Homo sapiens: one gene and its partners. The protein of the gene in region 1 purifies or fractionates together with the protein of each later gene. This does not show direct contact. Each region holds a gene or a part of one and is shown in the gene's direction. Other genes may lie near its edges.

The links.
Region 2: the proteins of CFAP300 (region 1) and TAB1 purify together in Homo sapiens (affinity purification with mass spectrometry, with the first as the bait; one large-scale study listed by BioGRID). This does not show direct contact.
Region 3: the proteins of CFAP300 (region 1) and CCT6B purify together in Homo sapiens (affinity purification with mass spectrometry, with the first as the bait; one large-scale study listed by BioGRID). This does not show direct contact.
Region 4: the proteins of CFAP300 (region 1) and TPM2 purify together in Homo sapiens (affinity purification with mass spectrometry; 2 studies listed by BioGRID and IntAct, with this or other methods). This does not show direct contact.

What each region holds. Positions count from the first base shown.
Region 1 is NC_000011.10:102,081,558-102,089,773, forward strand, and holds the end of CFAP300 (cilia- and flagella-associated protein 300), read left to right. Parts: intron 1-1,513; coding exon 1,514-1,642; coding exon of another isoform or gene 1,643-1,715; 3' UTR 1,716-2,997; downstream 2,998-8,216. UniProt on the Homo sapiens protein: Cilium- and flagellum-specific protein that plays a role in axonemal structure organization and motility. May play a role in outer and inner dynein arm assembly.
Region 2 is NC_000022.11:39,402,780-39,406,455, forward strand, and holds part of TAB1 (TGF-beta-activated kinase 1 and MAP3K7-binding protein 1), read left to right. Parts: intron 1-3,676. UniProt on the Homo sapiens protein: Key adapter protein that plays an essential role in JNK and NF-kappa-B activation and proinflammatory cytokines production in response to stimulation with TLRs and cytokines.
Region 3 is NC_000017.11:34,953,008-34,961,414, reverse strand, and holds part of CCT6B (T-complex protein 1 subunit zeta-2), read left to right. Parts: 5' UTR 1-21; coding exon 22-158; intron 159-1,764; coding exon 1,765-1,828; intron 1,829-2,720; coding exon 2,721-2,855; intron 2,856-6,815; coding exon 6,816-6,989; intron 6,990-8,407. UniProt on the Homo sapiens protein: Component of the chaperonin-containing T-complex (TRiC), a molecular chaperone complex that assists the folding of proteins upon ATP hydrolysis.
Region 4 is NC_000009.12:35,683,660-35,687,306, reverse strand, and holds part of TPM2 (tropomyosin beta chain), read left to right. Parts: intron 1-1,526; coding exon 1,527-1,660; intron 1,661-1,755; coding exon 1,756-1,873; intron 1,874-1,967; coding exon 1,968-2,038; intron 2,039-2,167; coding exon of another isoform or gene 2,168-2,499; coding exon 2,500-2,575; intron 2,576-2,756; coding exon 2,757-2,819; intron 2,820-2,991; coding exon 2,992-3,061; intron 3,062-3,647. UniProt on the Homo sapiens protein: Binds to actin filaments in muscle and non-muscle cells. Plays a central role, in association with the troponin complex, in the calcium dependent regulation of vertebrate striated muscle contraction.

The sequences.
Region 1 (8,216 bases):
TCTTAGTCTGTCAAACCATCATTTATAGGGCAGATAAATAAGAATGCCACAAATGTCGCCGGGCCCGGTGGCTCACGCCTGTAATCCCATTTTAGGGGGCCGAGGCAGGCAGATCACGAGCTCAGGAGATCGAGACCATCCTGGCTAACACTGTGAAACCCCGTCTCTACTAAAAATACAAAAAATTAGCCGGGCATGGTGGCACGCGCCTGTAGTCCCAGCTTTGGGGAGGCTGAGGCAGGAGAATTGCTTGAACCTGGGAGGCGGAGGTTGCAGTGAGCCGAGATCATGCCACTGCACTCCAGACTGGGCAACAGAGCGAGACTCCATCTAAAAAAAAAAAAAAAAAAGAATGCCATAAATGTGTCTTTATACATAGAATCTGGTACTTGAATTTCAGTATTATACAAAAGATATTATTACATTCGAAGCAGTTTCTAAGTATCTTCATTCAATCACTTAACAAGTATTTATTAAATATATACTGTGTATCAGCTATTGTACTGGGCTAAGTCACAGTGATAAACAAAAGAAACATAGTCCCCACCCCGTGCAGTGGCTCATGCCTGTAATCCCAGCACTTTGAGAGGGCAGATCACTTGAGGTCGGGAGTTCAAAACCAGCCTGGCCAACATGGTAAAACCCCATCTCTACAAAAAATACAAAAAATTAGCCGGGTGTGGTGGGAGACGCCTGTAATCCCAGCTACTTGGGAGCCTGAGGTATGAGAATTGCTTGAACCCAGGAAGCAAAAGTTGCAGTGAGCTGTGGTGGTACCAATACTGTACTCCAGACTGGGCAAAAGAGTAAGACTCCAACTCCAAAAAAAATTTAAAAAAAAAAAGAGAAAACAAAGATAGAAAATTGCTAAATATAAAATTGTTGCAATATTAGCACTTTAAAAGCACTTTTTTTAAAATGATGGGATTTGTCTTTGGACTATAAATTCCTTAAAGACAAAAATTATGCATGTAAGTATAGTACATATGTATTCCTATCATAGTAGACTGTGCTGTCCATAAATATTTTAAATCATTAATTAACTGCCAATTTATTGTCAAAGATTTTATCCATGTTTCCTGTTTTGACAGAAAATACATAATAGGCAAATATATTGATTATCACTTAAATGTAGTTGTATACTAACTAATTTAGGATTGGCCGGGTGCTGTGTCTCAAGCCTGTAATCCCAGCCTTTTGGGAGGCCGAGACAGGTGGATCACAAAGTCAGGAGTTCAAGACTAGCCTGGCTAAGATGCTGAAACCCTGTCTCTACTAAAAACACAAAAATTAGCTGGGCATGGTGGCACATGCCTGTAATCCCAGCTACTCGGGAAGCTGAAGCAGGAGAATCACTTGAACCCGTGCGGCAGAGGTTGCAGTGAGCCGAGATCGCGCCACTGCACTCCAGCCTGGGCGACGGAGCAAGACTCTGTCTCAAAAAATAATAATAATAAATATATAAATACATAAATAAAATAAAATAATAATAATTTAGGTTTGTCTTTTTCAGGATTCTGCTGGTATGTGCTATCCTTCAGCAAAGAATCATGAACAGACATTTTCTTACTTTATTGTGGATCCTATCAGGCGTCACCTTCATGTTTTATACCACTGTTATGGTGTGGGAGACATGTCTTAATGTTCTTTCAGATTATGTACCTCTACTATTTTGTATTTATCATTTTTCTATCTTAATACTAACTTATAGATAAACATATACTTTGCAAATTAATTCAAGAAAAATGTAAGGAGCCTACTTAGAGCAGAAGAAAGCAAACACCAAGATGCCTTTTTAAAAATTTGTGTGGAATACTAACCGGGGATCAAATTTCATCCATAATAAAATCTATACCAAAAAAGTTGTGGAATTTTTACAGAAAGTTACAAGGAATTAGAAATCTAGTTCATATTTGTTGCATTGTGATTCAAGTGAATCCTCAATTTTCCATGTATTTTAATTTATAAGCTAATTAATTATGGATTGAAAATGTAGCAGAAAACTAAACATGTCTACCACTGATCATTAATATGAATTGTTAGTTTATTTAACTTGTTTCATTTAATTACATTTCTTCATTGCACAAGCGTTTACATCTGTAAAGCTAGGCAAAGCATAACAATTCTTTTGCTTCATTTGTTCCACTTATAAGCCTCAGTAAAGAAGTAACGTTCTGGGGCCTGGCACGGTGGCTCACGCCTGTAATCTCAGCACTTTGGGAGGCCAAGGCGGGCGGATCACGAGGTCAAGAGATCGAGACCATCCTGGCCAACATGGTGAAACCCCGTCTCTACCAAAAGTACAAAAATTAGCTGGCTGTGGTGGTGTGTGCCTGTAGTCCCAGCTACTCAGGAGGCTGAGGCAAGAGAATCACTTGAACCCGGGAAGTGAGGTTGCAGTGAGCCGAGGCTGTGCCACTGTACTCTAGCTCTGGCAACAGAGCAAGACTCCGTCTCAGAAAAAAAAAAGGTTCTGAAAGTGGTTGTAAACTCTTGTATCACATAATAAATTAAAACTGCAGCTGTCCCACGGCTAATACAAGAGCTACATGTAAACAGAGAAAGTTGCCTGATGGCATTAGTAAGTCGTTCAAAGAGTGAGAAGCAGGTTATCTTAGTACTGTTCCTTATTTCATTCATAGAATGAATGTATAACCTAGATTGTTTTTGGTTTATTTTGATGGCAAAAATCATTGACATATATCCCATGGGTCATGGGAAGCCTGTAAGAAATGTTGAGGTTTGAGGAGGAGCAAGTTTGAAAGATGTGTTTCTGTGTTGTGGGATAAAGACGATAATCTTGGACTTGAACCTGGATTTGAATCTGGAATGCAGCTGGCAATTTGGGTATAGAGCTCAGGAGAAAGAGTATGTTTTACTTCTAATACCTAACACAATGACTTGGCATATTAAATGTTTATTGAATGAATAACTACTTTCTAGATATCCTCATAATACCCATAGATTTTTTTAAATTACATAAAAACATAAAATCAAGAACTGAAATGTCTGTTTGCTACCAGCTTTGCTGCTTACCTCACAGTTCCCTATGACCTGGAGACCCTTTCGATCAATCAAGTGGCCAATCAGTAATTCTTTTTGAATACCAATTCTGTGCAAGGCACTGGGCAGTTTACTTTGGGGAAACATACACTCCCTATAAACCTATTTAGGAAGGTAATCTTTAAGAGTGTGACTACCAATAGTGATTGTTGCATGAATTCAGAGATAGAAGAGATCACTCTGAACTAAGATAGGCTTAGTCTGGCTTCTATGGAAAGACTGGTGGGATATCAGTAATGGAAGAGAACAGCAGTTGAAGGGAGCACATGATGTGGCGAGGTACTCTGGGCTTGGCCCTTGGATGAAAGTCCAGAGGCGAAAGATGGGAAAGTGATACTGAGGAATTGCCACTATTTTTTCTCCGCTCTAAAGGTGGAGGTAGATAGGACCTTTGAGGAAAGATTGCTCCATTGTTTTGGAAAAATCATTTGATGACTCATTTGTGATTATGCAAATTATCTGTATTATAAGGCATAATAGAGTAGTGATAAAGAGTTTGGGCTGGGCTGTCAGGTTGCCTGGATTTTTTAATTTGCCATTACTTGCTGTGTGACCTTGAGCTGGTTACTTAACTCTCTGCGCCTTAATTGTCTTTTCTATAAAATGGAAAAAAATAATAGGACTACCTCGCAGGGCACGGTGGCTAACGCCTGTAATCCCAGCACTTTGGGAGGCCAAGGCAGGCGGATCACGAGGCCAGGAGATCGAGACCATCCTGGCTAACACAGTGAAACCCCATCTCTACAACAAAATAACAAAAAAAAAAAAAAAAAAAAAAAAAAAAGAAAAATGAGCTGGGCGTACTGGTGGGAGCCTGTAGTCCCAGCTACTCAGGAGGCTGAGGCAGGAGAATGGCATGAACCCGGCAGGCGGAGGTTGCAGTGAGCTGAATCGCGCCACTGCACTCCGGCCTAGGCGAGAGAGCGAGACTCTATCTCAAAAAATAAAATAAAAATAAATAATAATAATAATAATAATAGGACTACCTCATAAGTTCCCTTTTTTGGAAAATTGTATTAATTAATACATATGTTGGTCTTTGAATGATGCCAGGCACATAGTTTAAGTGCTCATGAATTTTGGCTGCATTCTCTACTGAGGAAATATGAAGAAAAAAAAAGAGAAACAGTTAACTGTCTGCATAATAATGTAAAAAGCTGTCTTCTTGGGGCCAGAATTGCTTTTGTATAGATTATTATTAATTGACTGAAGAGATGGGAAAATTGGTTTTTCCTCTTTGGAGGCCCCAGAGAACGTAGAGGTCCTGAGCACGGACTCCAGGGATTTCTTTGGCAGCATTTGTACACTTGGAACTATTTGCGCAGCTATTTGTTATAATTTGTTTAATATCTTTCATGAAAACAAGTACTGTGTCCATTTTGTTTACCTTTGTGTCCACAATGCCTAGAACTTGAAAGACAATACATGCCTATTCTCTGACTAAGTACTGTTGGTAGAGAGAAACTGGCCTTTGAAGTGCAACTGTGGAGACTGTGGAAAGCGAGGGAGGAGGAAAGGTTGGTGCTGAGAGTTATAGATCATCAGCATGGAAGCCTCCTCTGCAGGGGCTGAGCTGGTGGACTCTAGCAGCCTTCATACCTACGTGCCCACCTTAAATTTACTGTACAGTCATCCCTCTAGTTATACTTCAACCTTTTGTTAAATTTTGCAAACTATTATAGTCTGGATTCATACTGTAGTCTGGATTTAGCTGCCCAGCATGGGATTAGATATGCAGCCCAGGAACATGCCTGTGGCAAAAATTGTCCCTAGAGAGCAGCAGCCGCAGCCTGTAGAAGCCGGCTTTGTAAAAGCAAACTGTGATCAAGTGAGAGAAGAGGGGTTGTCTGGAGTGAGACAACTGGCCATGGTGACAAGTGACCACAGAATGGCTTTCTGAGACTTTCTGAGAGCATTCTTCAAAAATTCCAAAAGTATCTAGAACTAGAAATACCATTTGACCCAGCCATCCCATTACTGGGTATATACCCAAAGGACTATAAATCATGCTGCTATAAAGACACATGCACACGTATGTTTATTGCGGCATTATTCACAATAGCAAAGACTTGGAACCAACCCAAATGTCCAACAATGATAGACTGGATTAAGAAAATGTGGCACATATACACCATGGAATACTATGCAGCCATAAAAAATGATGAGTTCACATCCTTTGTAGGGACATGGATGAAATTGGAAATCATCATTCTCAGTAAACTATCGCAAGAACAAAAAACCAAACAACACATATTCTCACTCATAGGTGGGAATTGAACAATGAGAACACATGGACACAGGAAGGGGAACGTCACACTCTGGGGACTGTTGTGGGGTCGGGGGAGGGAGGAGGGATAGCATTGGGAGATATACCTAATGCTAGATGACGAGTTAGTGGGTGCAGCGCACCAGCATGGCACATGTATACATATGTAACTAACCTGCACATTGTGCACATGTACCCTAAAACTTAAAGTGTAATAATAATAAATTTAAAAAAAAAATTCCAAAAGTAACTTAAAGAAGAGGGGTCTTGCAGAATTGTAATTTGGACGTTAAAAAGAGGGACTTAGAGAAGTTGGGATATTTAGATCACATGAGCAAAAATAAATTCAAAGATACAAAAACACAAGGTGATTTCGGGGGACATGAGTACATTTGAGTAGTTAAAACTAATAAGTTCTGTTCTGGAGTTCTGGATAATAACAGGGAAGATAGATTACTGGGGACTTGGTCACAGAGCTGTGGGCACAAAGCTAAGAAATTTAAATCTTTTAAGTAGGTGATGTATAGCAATCATTAAGGACTTTTGAATAGGGGTAGTAGCATCATGAAAGTGATATTCTAGAAAGATTAGTCCAGCAGTGATAAATTGGGGTGAAAAAGTCCAAAGTCCAAAGATCAAATAGAGGTACATAGTAGTTGTCAAAGCACAGAATTAACTGAACTTAGCTCATAGCAATGATAACTTCTCAAGGCATCATGAAGTATGGGACAACAGAATGCTCGATAGAAAAAAAAAATCAAATATGGCCCAAAAAAGGGTAGCCGACTGTGTGAATTATTAAATTTTGGTGTTTGAGGTACTAAGAACTGGGAAGTGGGAACTGTGGTAGGAAGCTGTGGTCAGAGAAGGAAGCTCCCTTGTCCTGAGTTCTCCTTGTATTCAGATTCACAGGTCTGTCACCCTTGTTCCAACTCATCTGCAACCAGCATTCGTCCTTAAAACTTTGAAAACTGGTCTGAAGGTTCTAGAAACTCACTGGAGGCTTCTTAAGGAAAACTATCTACCCTGAAGGCTTCTCAGTCATCCAGTTAATCAACAAGAATTTGTAAAGAACTAACATTCATTCTCATGCATCCCACAGGTGCTTTTTTTTTAAGTCGGAATCTCGCTCCATCACCCAAGCCTGAGTGCAGTGGCACGATCTCAGCTCACTGCAACCTTCACCTCCTGAGCTCAACCCATTCTCGGGATTCAGTCTCCCGAGTAGCTGGGCTACACGCGCGCGCTACCATGCCTGGCTAATTTTTGTATTTTTAGTAGAGATGGAGTTTCACAGTGTTGGCCAGGCTGGTCTTGAACTCTTGACCTCAAGTGATCTGCCCACCTTGGCCTCCCAAAGTGCTGGGATTACAGGTGTGAGCCACTACGCCCGGCCCCACAGATGCTTATTGATTACCTGTTATGTCCTGGCCACTTTCGAGGCACTGCAAATACACCAATGAACAAAAATTTCTAAATTAGGGAGCTTACATTCTAGTGCCCATAACTGTGTTAGGTGCAGTGAGAAAGAGAAAGACTCAATTACTCAAGAAAGTTGGTGTTGCTGGAGACATAAGGCATTCATACATGTTAGTATTACTAATAGTACAAGACAGCATGTGAGTATCGGATGCCTAGCAGAGACCGTAATGGCAAAAAAACTTCAGGAGAAGAAATCATGCCTGCGCGAAGTAGTCAGGAAATTATTCAAAATAGATCTGGGAGTCCTATTAGATAATGTTTGTGAAGAAACAAAGAATGGGGAAAGGTACCTTGAAGAAAGGCGAAAGTTAAGAAAGATTAAACTGTTCCACAGGCAGAAGTATATTTCCAAAGAAACCTAAAATAAAGTTTTGTAGGGATTTCCTTGTCTTTCTCCCTTGTATTAACCAAATGGTTAAAATACTATTTGGCAACAAATCAGATTACCTATTTATTTCTATTTTATACTAGCAGCGTTGTCTGACATTAATGACAGGAACAAACTAGCATCCCTTGTAAGTCAAAGGGTGTGCTTATAGTTCTGGAAGTAGAAAGACAGTATTATTGGGTTTTTTTTTTTTTTTTCAAGACGGAGTCTTGCCCTGTCACCCAGTCTGGAGTGCAATGGCACAATCTCAGCTCACTGCCACCTCCGCCTCCCGGGTTCAAGCGATTCTCTTGCCTCAGCCTCCCAAGTAGCTGGGATTACAGGCGCCTGCCACTGCGCCTGGCTAATTTTTGTAGCTTTAGTAGAGACAGGATTTCACCATGTTGGTCAGGCTGGTCTTGAACTCCTGACCTCAGGTGATCTGCCCGCTTCAGCCTCCCAAAGTGTGGGATTACAGGTGTGAGCCACCACACCCAGCCTGTTGTTATGTTTGTTTCTAGTCAAAGTTAGTGCTTGACATGTCTTACTTTATTTAATCTTCTCAACTACCCTTTCAAAGTAGGTTAAAAGTCAGTAGAATCTTTGGGGTTATAAGTGAAAGAAAATTTCATCCAAATTGTCTTAAGCAAAAAGTGAATGTATTAGCCCACATAACTGAAAAGTCCCATAGTAGTTTGGGTTGCTTTTTGGCCTGATTTAATGCAAGACCCGTTTTCTCTCTCAGTTCATATTCTCTCTGTTGACTCCATTCTTAGTTTGTGTCTTTCCACGTACAAAAATGTTAGTATACTTGGCCGGGCACAGTGGCTCACGCCTGTAATCCCAGCACTTTGGGAGGCCGAGGCGGGCGGATCACAAGGTCAGGAGATCGAGACCATTCTGTCTAACATGGTGAAACCTCATCTCTACTAAAAATACAAAAAATTAGCCGGGCGTGGTGGCGGGCGCCTGTGGTCCCAGCTACTTGGGAGGCTGAGGTAGGAGAATGGCATGAACCCGGGAGGCAGACCTTGCAGT
Region 2 (3,676 bases), on another chromosome or scaffold:
GGCCTCAAGCAATCCGCCTGCCTGGGCCTCCCAAAGTGCTAGGATTACAGGTGTGAGCCACTGTGCCCGGCCACAAAGAGGTTCTAAGGAGAGCTTGATGTGTTCAAAAGGACCCAGACCTTTCAGCCGGATAAAACAGTGTTAGTCTCATACTGGCTTTGGGCAAATCACTTTATGTCCCTGAGCCTTAGTTTCTCCAAACCAAGAGGACTCTGGGGAGTATTGTTGGTGTTAAAGGAACTGACACATTCCACTACTAGCCTGGCTTGGTTGCCCGCTAACCAGAAACTTCTACCTTCAGTGCTGCCGTGAGTGAATGCTGTTCATTCCCTTAAATGTCCCTGAGCACTCACTATGTGCTAGGCACCCTGCAGGTGCAGGAGACACCGCCTTTGTGGAGCTGATGGTCTAGTAAAGGGGACAGACAGTGAGCACCGAACAGATACAGATCATCTGTGATTTTGTAATATCCAAACTACAGCATCAGGTGGTGCTATGAGGAACAGTCTAGATTCACACACAGAATGTTGGGGGTGCCATTTTGGACAGGGTGGTAAGGGAAGACTTCTCCACATTTGATGAGATGAAAACGGGGAAATGGGGGCAGCATTCCTGCCCAAGGGAGCAGGAGATGCAAAGGCTGCTGTTTCAGGAGCCTCAGGGGTGCTGGTGCAGCTGGGTGGAGTGCCTTGGGGGAGCTTGGGAGTAGCTGAGGTCTGAGGGAGCCGGGGGCCATGCTGGGCTTCACAGGTCCTGATGTGGCCTCTGGATTCCATTCTTCATGTGATGTGAAGCTTTCATGGGGAGCAGATTGAGTAGGGACCTGATGTGATGTGACTTTTGATTGGAGAAAAATCCCTCTTTTTTTTTTTTTTTTGAGACGGAGTCTCGCTCTGTTGCCCAGGCTGGAGTGCAGTGGCGCAATCTCAGCTCACTGCAAGCTCCGCCTCCCAGGTTCACGCCATTCTCCTGCCTCAGCCTCCCAAGTAGCTGGGACTACAGGCACCCACCACCACACCCAGCTAACTTTTTGTATTTTTTTTTTTAGTAGAGACGGGGTTTCACCGTGTTAGCCAGGATGGTCTCGATCTCCTGACCTCGTGATCTGCCAGCCTCGGCCTCCCAAAGTGCTGGGATTACAGGCGTGAGCCACCGTGCCCGGCCGAAAAATCCCTCTTTTGAGTTTGAGTGGTGAGAGTGGAAGCCTGGGACCTCCTAAGAGACTCCTAGAGTCATCCAGGTGCGAGAAGGTGTCTTGGCCATGGGGATGGCAGAAGAATGGTGGGAAGTATCAGATTCCAGTTGTGTTTTGGAGGAAGAGCTCATGTGATTTGCTGATGGATTGAATGTGAGGTGTGTGACAGAGGAAGAAGAGTCAAAAAGGACTCTTAAGGTTTTGGTTTAAACAACAGTGGTGCCATTTACGGGGTGAGGGAGCCCTGGAAGAGGGGCACCCTGGGGCAGGGGGAATCAAGAGTTTGATTTTGCCTGTACTGTTACTTAATTATAAAAAAGAAAATCAGGCTAGGCATGGTGGCTCATGCCTGGAATCCCAGCCCTTTGGGAGGCTGAGGCAGGAGGATCACTTGAGGCCAGGAGTTCCAGATCAGCTCGGGCAACATAGTGAGATTCAGTCTTTAAAAAAATTAGTGAGGCATGGTGGTATGTGCCTGTAGTACTTAGGAGACTTAATGGGGTGATTGCCTGAGCCCAGAAGTTTGAGGTTGTAGTGAGGCTATGATCCCCTCACTGCACTCCAGGCTGGGTGACACAGCAAGACCTGTTTAAAAAAAAAAAAAGAAAGTAAGCTTAAAATCAATTTTTTAAACTTCGACATGTCCTGAGCAATTATATCTGAGATCATAGGTGCTGCTATCTGTGTAATTTATCTAAAGGATGTTAAAATAAATACATAGCCACTAAAATAAAAAGGTCCATGGGGGTACCACCTATACCCATTGCATACACCCAGCTGCTGCCCTAGCACATTGGAAGTGCCAACAATGATTATTAGCCCCTTTAAGAATGAATGAGGAGCTCTTTAGGATGACGACATGGAGAACCTTCAATGAAAACTCCGGTGGGAGAAGTGGGGGCCAGGAGTGGAGCTGGTCTCAGAGAAGTGGGTCATCCGGAAGGTTGGAGGTGGTGGGGGCATTGGGGCCTTGGAAGCTTTTTGGAGAGAAAGGTCTGCTGCTCCCCTGCTCCGAGCCCTCTTCCTGGGGTTGTGAGTCTCCCTTTCTGAGCTTCCTTTTTGCTTCTAAGGAATGTGGGTGCTTTTACCACAAAAACACTTGGCCTTTTCATAGCATAATTTGGTATTCAAGCTGTGGCCTGAGCTTGGAACCATTCTTTGTCCATTTCTGCTGCCCAGGACTTTGAGATGAGTCTGTGTGGGTACTTTGTGAACTATTATGTGACATGGACACATATATACATGAGGAGTGAATGCTTACATCATGCACAGGGTGTTTGTAAAGGCCTTGTTGGGTTAAATACTGTTGGATCACTGTAGAAGCTTTTCATACCGAAACATTAATTTTGGAAACTCCTTCACAAAATCAAATCAAAATTAGGTCTTTTGAAACAGGCTTCTTAACGTATTCTTGTGAAATTTCTCATGAGCAGTTCATTTCTCAGACATGGAAGAGTTAAGTCCTGCGTTCGCTGTTGTGTGTGTTGCAGTGGCTCCGCGATGAGGCTGTGCTGAGTGAGAGACGCCCCCTTCTCAGCTTCTCGCAGACTCTTGCTCCCTGCGCTCCAGCGCCGCTCACGGCTGGTGCTGGCAGGCCTGGCATTTGGGGGCGTGGGAGAAAGTATGCATCAGTGTGTGCAGGGGTGGAGGGGTGGGTGGTTTGTGTGAATAGAAAGTACATGACCTTTCTGAAAATTGTTCAGAAATGTGGAGGAAGGAAGCGAGAGACTTGGCAGTCCTGTAGGCTTTAATGGAATCAGCAATGGACGCTCGGTATGGCTAATCCTCGATGGAGATGGAAAGGGACGGGAGAACACGATCCAAGCCTACTCAGCTGCAGCAGCGTGAGTCCGCTGGGGAACACGGAGAAGACCAGATACTCTCACTCCCACTTGGTAGAACCTCCTGAGGTTCTCCGGCCACTGTAGTGAACCAGTGTCTGGCGAGCGCCCGAATTACGTGAGAAACTGCCCATGTGTCATTGGATCTAAGACACCAATGTTTTAAGGACACGTCAGTGTTTTGTCTATTGCTCAGAAAGAGAACTCACAGCTAATTAACTTGTAACATACCAACTCCAGAGACGTTAACATGTGGAAAATGTAGGTCTTCAAATCAGTGAAATAAGGTAATCTAATTAACAATACCAGGCTATAGCACAATGGTTGCCACAGGGCCACTTTGGGAGGCCAAGGCGTGTGGATCACAAGGTCAGGAGTTCAAGACCAGCCTGGCCAAGATGGTGAAACCACGTCTCTACTAAAAATACAAAAAATTAGCCGGGCATGGTGGCACGCACCTGTAATCCCAGCTACTCCAGAGGCTGAGGCAGAGAATTGCTTAAACCTGGAGGGGCAGAGCTTGCAGTGAGCCAAGATCGCGCCACTGCACTCCAGCCTGGGCGACAGAGTGAGACTGTCACCAAAAAAAAAAAAAAAAAAAAAGGAATCATTTGAGTGAAAGATAGTTTCTTGAAGATGG
Region 3 (8,407 bases), on another chromosome or scaffold:
CTCCCTCTGAACGGTTAGGCTATGGCTGCGATAAAGGCCGTCAACTCCAAGGCTGAGGTGGCGCGGGCCCGGGCAGCTTTGGCTGTCAATATATGCGCCGCCCGAGGGCTGCAGGATGTGCTGCGGACCAACTTGGGTCCTAAAGGCACCATGAAAATGTGAGACAGCGGTTGGAGCGGCCATTACGCGGCTAGGGGCCCGTTGGTGTCCTGTCGCCCTCTGAGGCAGGCGTCCGCGTAGCGCTGTGGATGTTCTTGCGAGCTTGATTTCCCTCATTCTCATCCCTGCTCTGGGGGTATTTCTCGCCTGGTGCAGGTGGAGGAGAAAAGCCTCCCCTAGTAGAGGGCCCCGGGAGTGAAGCTGTGGCGCTTCCCCGACCCCCGACTTGTCGTCAAGGTTCATATGCAGTTAGAAAGTCAGTTAATTTAGTGTCTCATTGGAAACAAAGCATTTAACTCCTCTGCTCCTTAAGACTGTATACCCTTGGTCCATAAATTCAACAAGTAGTTTTGTTTTTTGTATGGCAATGTATTGTAGTGGAGAGGACACAGGCTTTGGAGCCAGGAAGGCATGGGGTCAAATCCAAGTTCTACTTGAATACCCCGTGTCTATGGTTGTTCAGATCTATTCATCTTTTCAGTATATATTAAGCACCCTTTTCTATAGACAAGAGTGAGGAAAAGAGACCAGTGAGGGCAAAAGGGTATAAGAGGAGAGACACATCCTCATAGTAATGAACAAAATAATATTAATGGTAAAATAAGTCACTTAGGTACCAGTTGTTGGGACACAGAAATGATCAAGATAACGGTTTCTGTTCTTAAGGAGATGTGGTAGAGACGGATGTGGTAGAGTAGGATGTGCTAATTATATATAGATGCATATAATTATGCTGAAGAAAGGGACTGATGGCAGAAGGAAAAGCATCTTAAGTAACATGTTTGATCAGTCTTGAAAGAAGAATAAGACTTCACTAGTTGGAAGAGGGAGTAAAGGCCTGGGCAAAGTAATTTCAGGAATAAGAAAGACCAATGGTGCAAATCCAACAGAAACGAAACAAAACATGGTATATTAAGGGAACCAGAAGATTTGCTTGTGGAAAAGTAGATGAGGCAGGGAAGATATTGGGAAAGGTCAAGTATGTCATTGCTGTGTTTGGATTTTAACTTGAAAATGATGGAAAACATAAAAATCATTGGAGGACTTTTGATCAGGGAACTGACTGAATCACGTTGCCTTTTAGAAAGAAAAATGTGTGGAGGGTATATTTAAGTTTGGAGATATCCGGATGCCATCCAAAGTAGAGATGATAACAGTGGAGATGGAGAGAAGGTGGCAGATTCAAGAGATATTTAGGTAGTAGAATTGATAGAACTTGGTGATCTAATAAATGCAGGGATGAGGGAAACTAAGTTGAGTGACTGAATGAATGAAAACATTCACCAAAATTAAAACCTGCAGGAAATTTGCGAATTTGTGCTTTGTAGACTTCCAAGTATTCTTTGACCAAACCACAGTTCGTAACTCATCAAGTGCTTTTATCTTTAAACCTGTAAATAGTCCATTTGGAATGAAATCTCCATAATCTGTCCATCTGGGGAGAAATGATTCTGTGAGCTGCAAATGGTGGTAATTACCATGGCATATTCCCATGGTACAGTGGAAGTTTTCCGAGCCCAGTTCCCTCTATTAAGGATAATGGAGTGGCAAGCACTGGGAATGTCTTCCTACCACATGAAGTTAATATCATTCTTCTCTGAACAGGCTTGTTTCTGGTGCAGGTGACATCAAACTCACCAAAGATGGCAATGTGCTGCTCGATGAGATGGTGAGCTGATGCTGCTGACTTTAATAAACCTTAATAAGCCTTAATTAGAAGCATAGTAGAACTTGTGTATCTTTAAGCCAAGGCTGTGAGCTAAATACTGCAGTCTTGAGATATGCTGAAGACTGTTGAATTAGACCTCAATAAAAAAATTTTTTTGGCCGGGTGTGGTAGCTCACTCCTGTAATCCCAACACTTTGGGAGGCTGAGGTGGCCAAATTGCTTGAGCCCAGGAGTTCAAGACCAGGCTGGGCAACATGGTGAAAACCGTCTCTACAAAAAAAAAAAAAAAAAAAAATTTTGCTCAGTGTGGTGACATACGCCTATAGTCCCAGCTACTCTGGAGGCTGAGGTGAGAGGATCACTTGAGCCCAGGAGGCCAAGGCTGCAGTGAATGAGATTGTGCCATTGCACTCCAGCCTGAGTGGCAGAGTGAAACCCTGTCTCAAAAAAAAAAAAAAAAAAAGTTTTTTTTTTTGGCTGTTTCCAAGTCTTTGTATACTTATACATACTTTGTATACTTAGGCATACTTATAAATCAATAATATCTTTTAAGGGCACTGCCTTATGTTCTTTGTAATTATGGAAAAATAAAAATATCCTTTGCAAGTTTAATACATGTATTCATTTTGAGATTGAATGATTTAATCTTATTTTAGAAATGTCATTGCATTCTGAAGCAAAGACTTTTATGAAATGTTCAGGCCTCATTACCTGTCACTTTTAAAATTTTGGACTTGACATTTAGGTATTGATAATACAAAACTTGTAAACTTGTAGAATGAAGCTTATTTCATTTTTTAATTTTGCTACTGACCCCTAGGTTATCTTGCTTTTGGTGACCTACTTCCTTATCTCATCCTGTCTTTTTAAATCTGTTGCTTGCTTTTTCCAGCAAATTCAACATCCAACAGCTTCCTTGATAGCAAAAGTAGCAACAGCTCAGGATGACGTCACAGGAGATGGTACTACTTCAAATGTTCTAATTATTGGAGAGTTATTAAAACAAGCTGACCTGTACATTTCTGAGGTATTAGAATTTCACAGTTTATATGTTATTTTGAATGGCAAATTATTTTTTTAACTAGTAAAATGGTTGAGTTTTAGACAGTTAATTTTGTTTTAATTAATTAATTAATTAATTTTGAGATGGAGTCTCACTGTGTCGCCCAGGCTGGAGTGCAGTGGCAGAATCTTGGCTCACTGCAACCTCCGCCTCCCAGGTTCAATCAATTCTCCTGCTTCAGCTTCCCGAGTAGCTGGGATTACAGGCATGCGCCATCATGCCTGGCTAATGTTTGTATTTTTTTTAGAGACAGGGTTTCACCATCATGGCCAGCCTGGTCTTGAGCTCCTGACCTCAGGTGATCCACCTGCCTGGGCCTCCCAGAGTGCTGGGATTACAGGCATGAGCCACCGTGCCTGGTCTAGACAGTTAATTTTAATTAAGATATTCTTGGACAATTATAAATGGAAATAATAATGAACTTTGTTGGCCAAAATAATGCCTTTCGTTGGAATTATATACCTCTTTTAAAAATGAAATATTTAACGGACCTAAAAAAGTAAAAAATTACCCATGTATCCATGGGTAATTAAGAAAGAAAACACCATAGATAAAGTTGAAACCAAATTATGCACCTTTATAAAACCACTGGAGAAAAATTATTGAAGGTTTTACTTATTGTGAATTTACCTTCCTTTCTAGTTTCATTTTCTTTATAAATCATCTACTTCAGCCAGACTCCTCCGTTCACTGGCCTCTGAAAACATCATGTACATTTTTACCTTTCTCTAATTAAGTATCTCTTTTCTCCATATCTGAATGTTTTCTCTCTTTCAGGGACCATTTCAGCAAAGAGTAACCTAGTCAAAATGATTCTCTGTGTTTCGTTTAGTATTGGGAATTTTCTATTAATTCAGTACTTGCAACTTAGGATGCTTTTGGCTGTAAACAACTTGACTAAAACTCACTTGAACAATAAGGAAATGATTATCTCCCATAATAGAAAATTGAGAGATAAGGGAGACTGTCAGGTTGTGTGATAACAAAATTCAGTCATCAAGTACACAGGTTCTTTGTCTCTTACCTCTTCCACTCACAGTGCTGTTTCATCCTAAGAGTATTTCCATCTTGAAAGTAAGAGGCCAGGTGCGGTGGCTCACACCTGTAATCCCAGCACTTTGGGAGGCCGAGGCAGGTGGATCACCTGAGGTCGGGAGTTCGAGACCAGCCTGACCAACGTGGAGAAACCCTGTCTCTGCTAAAAATACAAAATTAGCCAGGCGTGTTGGTGCACGCCTGTGATCCCAGCTACTCAGGAGGCTGAGGCAGGAGAATTGCTTGAACCCAGGAGGTGGAGATTGCAGTGAGCCAAGATTGTGCCATCATACTCTAGCCTGGGCAACAAGAGTGAAACTCCATCTCAAAAAAAAAAAAAAAAAATGGAAAGAAAAAGGAAAGAAAAAGAAAGTAAGACTGGCTGGGCACAGTGGCTCATGCTTGTAATCCCAGCACTTTGGGAGGCTGAGGCAGGAGGATCACTTGAGCCCAGGAATTTGAGACCAGCCTGGGCAACATAGTGAGACCCTGTCTTTAGAAATAATAAAAAAAAATTAGGCTTGGTGGCATGCTGCATGTGGTCCTGGCTACTTGGGAGGCTGAGGCAGGAGGATTGCCTGAACCCAGGAGGTGGAGGCCGCAGTAAGCCATGATTGCACCAGTGTACTCCAGCCTGGGTGACAGAGTGAGACCCAGTCTCTAAAAGAAAGAGAGAGAGAGAAGAGAGGAGAGAGGAGAGAGAGGACAGAGGAGAGCGAAGAAAGACTGTCAGAGGAAATTAGGCAGAGGGCAAGATAAAGCCATTCAGGAGGCTTTTCTTTAGTATGATTGGGCCAACTTTAGTATTATGTCCATCCCAAGCCAGTAACAGTTTTTATGGGAATTGACTTAGACTAATCAGGATCCACTCCTTGAGCTGGGGATAAGATCAGCTTTCTCCAAAGCACAAGTGGGAGAGGGAAACCCAAACTGAATTAGGGTTGGGTTAGGAAGAAAGGAGTTTGGCAAGGGTGAGATGCTAACAGACATTATGAAACTCTGTGGTGGTGCAGTGATAGAGCCGGGCACAGTATATGATGGAATCACTGAGGCTGGAGGGACGTCCTAAACTAGCCTGAAGTAGTCAGGAAGAACTCTCTGGAGGAAGTAAGGCCTGGCCTAAATCTTCAGGATGAGGAGGAGTGAACCAGACAAAAGAGCAAGGGGTGAGGAGAATGGCTTTCCAGGCAGAAGGAACAACATAAGCAAAGTCACAGAGAAGACAAGCAACATGGTGTTGTATGAAGCTACAAGCATTTTGGTGTTGCTGGAATTTCAGGTGATGTGAACAGTAGTGGAGAAGAGGCTGGAGAGGGAAGTGGGAGCCAGATCAGAGGGCATGTAGTATGCTAACCAAGAAGCTTAGATTTCATCCAGTGGTATTACAGACCAAACATAGAAACATACTAATGACTGATATGGTCAGGTTGGCATTTTAAGTATTTGGGGGATGGTTTTAAGGGAGTCTAGACCAGAGGTTTTCATGATAGTCTGGATGAGAGATTGTGGGGTCCTAGCTTGAAGACATTTTTGAAAATGGTTAATAACATAGGCTCTAAAGTCAGGTCTCATGGGTTTAAACAACCTGGTTTCACTTCTTATTATCTTGGTGATCTAAGGCAAATTACATTATCCCTTTAAGCCTCGGTCTTCTCATCTGTGAAATAGGAAAAATAATAATAATAATACCCACTTCATGATGTGGCTAGAGAATTAAATAACTTGTGTAAAACTCTTAGTCATGTCCAGCACAAATACTCAATGTCAACTTTTAAAGATTATTAAGGATTGATGTAAAGAAAAGTAGTAAGGGAATGAATTAGACCAAGTGCTAGCTTTCACAAAGTTTGTGTATTATTTTATGGAACAAAAAATACTATTAAAATATTTTTTCATAATTTTAGACCTATAGAAAAGTTGCAAACATACTACAAAGAATTCCTGTATACTTTTTACCCAGATTCTTCAAGCATTTTCATTTCTCTCATTGCCTGCTTGCCCTGTTCTCTTCCTTAGTATCAGTGTACTTATTCTTTTCTAAACTGTATGTTGCAGACATGATCTAAATATTTCAGTGTATATTTCTTAAAACCAGGGAATTATATAATTGCAGTATAGTTATAAAAACCAGGAAATTAATAATAACATTAACACATTGATACATTACTGTTATCTAATCTGCATTCTATTCAAACTTCACCACTTATATTAATAGTGCTCTTTATAGAAAAAAAAGATCTAAGTTCATGCATTGCACTCAGTTGTCGTGTTCCTTTAGTATCCTTTAAGCTAGACTAGTTCCTGAGCTGCCTTTTATGCTTCATGATATTGCTACTTTTAAGCCATTTATTTTGTAGAAAGTCCCTCAGTGTGGATTTGCCTATTTCCTCAATTAAACTTAGGTTACAGATTGTTGGCCAAAATACCATAGAACTGTTGTGTTCTACTGAATGCATCATGTCAGCAGGCATGTGATGCCTGTCTGTCTCATTATTGTGATGTTAACTTTGATCACTTGGTGAAGTGGTAGACACCACAGTGTTCTATCTGCCACTTTTCCCCAATTCAGTGGTGGTTCTTTTCCTCTGCATTGAAAGGAATCTTTTTATGTGTGCCCATTCAGAAGGGCACCACATAACAACAATGTAGTCATAATTTTTGGAAATAAAAAGGACTTCTGTAATTTTTAATACTAGACTTGAAGCCTTACTGTTAAGGTTGAGATTATTTCAAGTATGAAGCACTAAAATGACTTTTATAAATTATGTACACTTATATTTCATGGCATTAATGTGAGTAACTTTTTTTGAACATAATAATCAGACAGGTTGGTTACTTTTACATTGGGTGACTTATTTTATAATTTATAATTTTATGTTGATGTAACAGGGCCTGCACCCTAGAATAATAGCTGAAGGATTTGAAGCTGCAAAGATAAAAGCACTTGAAGTTTTGGAGGAAGTTAAAGTGACAAAGGAGATGAAAAGAAAAATCCTCTTAGATGTAGCTAGAACATCATTACAAACTAAAGTTCATGCTGAACTGGCTGATGTCTTAACAGAGGTATGTTATTAAACTTTTGCATTCAGAACAAATATAGCCTAATGCATGGTGATATTTTTCTTTTTCTGTAAGATAATCAAGTATTTCATGTGGTTTTTTGGGCATAAAATATGGAAGACAGACAATTATTGTATAGGCCTAACTGTAGATTAGATTTGACTGGTCAGAACAGTATTTGTAATTTTCAGAAGTATCATACTAGGCCTTTTTTTAAACGTGACTTGAAAGGTGGGAGAGGTTTGGCTGCCTGCAGATCATCTCCTGTGGAAGCTCTTGAATAGTATACTGGTCTTTTTAAATCTAGCAGTCCATATTTTATTATGTGAGGTGACACACAAGATAGTTGTTTTAGCAGTGTACCTTGTAGATAAGGTTACCAATATAATGAAATGTGATATGATATATTAATATATTAATATTCACATATTGGAAATGTATGTTTGTTTAGTTTATTTCTTTTATTAATTTATTTGAGACAGAGTCTTACTCTGTCACTCAGGCTGGAGTGCAGTGTCATGATCTCAGCTCACTGCAACCCCCGTCTCCCAGGTTCAAACGATTCTCCTACATCAGCCTCCCGAGTAGCTGGGATTACAGGCGCGTGCCACCACGCCTGGCTAATTTCTGTATTTTTAGTAGAGATGGGGTCTCACTATGTTACCAAAGCTTGTCTTGAACTCCTGACCTCAAATGATACACCCACCTCGGGCTTCCAAAGTGCTGGGATTACAGGCATGAAGTCACCACATCTGGCCAGTGTTTTGTTTATTTCTAAAGGTAGAATATATGTTATATAGGCTGGGCATGGTGGCTCATGCTTGTAATCCCAGCACTTTAGGAGGCCGAGGTGGGGAGACGACCTGAGGTCAGGAGTTTGAGACCAGCCTGGCCAACATGGTGAAATCCTGTCTGTACTCAAAATACAAAAATTAGCTGGGCATGTTAGCAGGCACCTGTAATCCCAGCTACTTGGGAGGCTAAGGCAGGAGAATCACTCTGGGAGGGAGGGGGAGGTTGCAGTGAGCTGACATCATGCCATTGCACTCTAGCCTGGGTGACAGAGTGAAACTTTGTCTCAAAAAAATATATATATATATATATATATATTTTATATAAAGACAAGATTGGCTGGATATTTTGGGAAGGCTTTTATCAGGTGGCAATGATTTGATATCATTATTGTTTTTCAGCTTTGTAATTTCTGAAACTTGAATATATTTGTTTACCAGGAAGAATGATAAATTCTTAGGAAACAAATTCACAAGACATTGACATACAAAGCAGAATACTACCTTAATAATTTACTTTGAGAACTACAAATGCCAAATGTACTGGAATACTTGAGTTGTTTCTGATCGATTCTCCTTACCGTTAAAAAAAAACAACTTGGGAAATCAGATTAAGATCAGACAATTTCT
Region 4 (3,647 bases), on another chromosome or scaffold:
TCCCAAACTTGGCTTATCATCAGAATCACTCGGGGGCTTTAAAAAAAAAAGAGAAGATTCCCAAGCCCCCGCCCTACACATCCCAATTCAGTGGATCTAGCATGGAGTAAGAGAACCTGTTTAGTTTTATGAGTCTCACCGAAGGTCCTGTTGATTAACTGAGTATTAAAAGCAGTGGATTATCTCAGAACAGCCTTAAGAAGGAGGAACTGTTATTGTTAACTCCAACTTGTGAAGGAGGAAACTGAAGCTTAGAGAGGCTAAATAAGTTGCCCACAGTTACACAGGTGTTGAGTGGCTGAGCCGTGGCTCAAAGACAATCTGACTCAGAGCCGATGCTCTTAACACGTGGCTGCCCTGCTCCTCTCATTTTCCTTTACTGGCGCTCGCCTTGCTCTGCCCTTTTTCTCAGTGTTTGACCAGTTTTTATGGATTTTTTCCAAAACCTCCATGGTTTTGCCTCCTACTGCAAGCCCAGGGGCTGAGTAGACATCCCTCACACTGCCCCTGCATTGCCCCCAGCTCTCTGCTGGCCTTGGCAGGGAGCCCCTTGCTACAGCCATGGGTATTCCTTATAGGCCTGCCTCTTGGGCTTCTTGCTGGGAGTCTGCCTTACAGCTGATGACAGATGACATCACTGAACTTGATACTTTTTTTTTTTTTTTTTTTTGAGATGGGATCTTGCTATGTTTCCCAGGCAGGGCTCCTGGGGTCAAGCTGAACTCCCGCCTTAGCCTTCGGAGTAGCTGGGATGACAGGCATGCACCACCATGCCCAGTATCACTGAGCTTGATTCTGTGACGGGCTATTCTTAGCAGCAGTGATGTCTGGTTGGCCTGATTCTCCTCCCATCCCCTTACCTGGGCCAGGCTTTGCTGTGTAGGAATCAGAGCTGCATCAGACCTGGCCCCAGCACTTGAAGTGCTCCCACAGGGAACAGGAGGACTTGTGTGCAGGTGACCTTTGGGAGACTAACTGTGCACAGTGCAGGAGAGGCCCTGCAGCAGGGGAGCGGAGCTTGTCAAGCAAGGAATGCATGTATTTTTTTGTTTTTTTGAGATGGAGTTTCGTTCTTTTTACCCAGGCTGGAGTGCAGTGGCACGACCTCAGCTCACTGCAACCTCCGCCTCCTGGGTTCAAGTGATTCTTGTGCCTCAGCCTCCCAAGTAGCTGGGATTACAGGCATGCGCCACCATGCCTGGCTAATTTTTTATTTTTAATAGAGACAGAGTTTCACCATGTTGGCCAGGCTGCTCTCAAACTCCTCACCTCAGGTGATCCACCCGCCTCGGCCTCCCAGAGTGCGGGGATTACAGGCGTGAGCCACCATGCCCGGCCTGAATGCACATTTTTTACTGGAGCACAGTCTGGGCAGAAGATGATTGGTTGGGGAAAAATCACATAGAATGTCTAGAAACCAGGAAGCCTCAGTTCTTTCTGAGAAGAATCTCGCCATCCTCTGGAGCCTCTCTGATCCTTATCCAAGGCTAACAAGGCCTTTTTGACCCCTGACCTCTGACCCACAGGCTGAGGCAGATGTGGCCTCCCTGAACCGCCGCATTCAGCTGGTTGAGGAGGAGCTGGACCGGGCCCAGGAGCGCCTGGCTACAGCCCTGCAGAAGCTGGAGGAGGCCGAGAAGGCGGCTGATGAGAGCGAGAGGTGGTCAGGGGCCTCGGGGAGGATGGTCCGGGAGGGAGAAGGGAGCCTGTCTCTGCTGGTCCTGACCCTACGCTCACCCTCTCCCTGCCTTTCAGAGGAATGAAGGTCATCGAAAACCGGGCCATGAAGGATGAGGAGAAGATGGAACTGCAGGAGATGCAGCTGAAGGAGGCCAAGCACATCGCTGAGGATTCAGACCGCAAATATGAAGAGGTGACAGCCTTGCCCCTCTGCCTGCTCGCTGCCCAGCCTGCAACATGCCCAGTCCTTCTCCACTGATCTACCCTCTCTTTCTCACTCCCCACAGGTGGCCAGGAAGCTGGTGATCCTGGAAGGAGAGCTGGAGCGCTCGGAGGAGAGGGCTGAGGTGGCCGAGAGGTAAAGATACCCGGGGGTGACAAGTGAGCCCATTGGCCCTGGGGCCTTCCACACAGTGGGAAGGTAGCATCCTAGGCTTGGGGCTGTAGGGACAGGCCCTGTTCTCTGACCCCTGCCCGCTGCCCCCAGCCGAGCCAGACAGCTGGAGGAGGAACTTCGAACCATGGACCAGGCCCTCAAGTCCCTGATGGCCTCAGAGGAGGAGGTAGTGACCCCTCTGAACCTTTCTGGGCAATGGCGCCTTCTCTCAGCTCACCTTCCCTCCGTCTCAGCACCGCAGGCTGCTCTTTCTCAGCTGCTGGGGATCAGGAAGGGCCTGGGGCTTCTGAGCCCTGCCTGCTGTCACTCTCACAACTTTGCTCTTCTCTTCTCTCCTCCACCCGTCCCCTGCTGTGCCATCTCCACTGTCTGGCTTCGCTGTGCCCTCACACCCTGCCCCCCCCGCCACACACCCCCTGCAGTAAATGTGGGGACCTAGAGGAGGAGCTGAAAATTGTTACCAACAACTTGAAATCCCTGGAGGCCCAGGCGGACAAGGTAGAGGGGAGCAGAGGGGCAGTGAGGATGGGGTCCCACAGGGGAGGGAGGTGAGGGGCCCAAGGCAGGGAGGGGCTGGGTGTTCAACGGAGGCAAGATGACCAGGAGCCTACGGGGTACAATGGAGAAATGAAGGATCTGTGGTAGCGCTGTACTGATGGCGTGTGTGTGTCCCCAAAAGTATTCCACCAAAGAAGATAAATATGAAGAGGAGATCAAACTGTTGGAGGAGAAGCTGAAGGAGGTGAGAGTCCTCTTCCAGTTCCCAGTCTCCCCTCAAGCCACCCTAATCCTTGCCAGAGACGGCCTGTGGCAGGACACTTGAGGGTTGGGATGGACAAGAAGCTTGACTTAGGCAGTAGTCTGTGGGAGGGCCTAATTCTTTGCCATTTCTCCCATCCTGCCTTTACCCCCAGGCTGAGACCCGAGCAGAGTTTGCCGAGAGGTCTGTGGCAAAGTTGGAGAAAACCATCGATGACCTAGAAGGTAAAAGAAGCCTTTATAAGTAGGTCCACACCTGCCGTGATTATCAGTCTGTCCTGTACCTTCTCATCCCATTTTATTTGCCACCAATAAACTAGGGTTGGGCCACCTAGGACCCTACCAACTCCCCAACTCTGTGGGCCATGTCTACAATTCAAGTAATTGTAGCTGCCCACGGCGCAACAACTCCAGTGCTTCTCAAACTTCAGCATGCATGAGAATCACTGGGAGAGTTTTAAAAACAGATTCCTTGACTCTGCCCCAAAGAGATTGCTGACTTTGGGCTGGAGGATTTACATTTCTAGCTAGTTCTCTGGTACTGCCAATGCTGCTGGTCCTCATGCCACACTCTGAGTGGCACCCTTATAGACAATTCCGTCCCCGAGTGTAACGCAGTAGAGTTCTAGTGCAGAGACTGGCTTATTAACTAGAGAGCTGTTGGACTGAACATCTAGGTCTGCATGACAGCACTAATAGAAAACACTATTTTAAGCTAGATTTGACAAAAGCAAACATCCAGATATTTGTGAGTCTGTGGCTATTTCTATTGTTAATGATGATGTGGCTAAAGTTGCCTTTCCTTTTTATT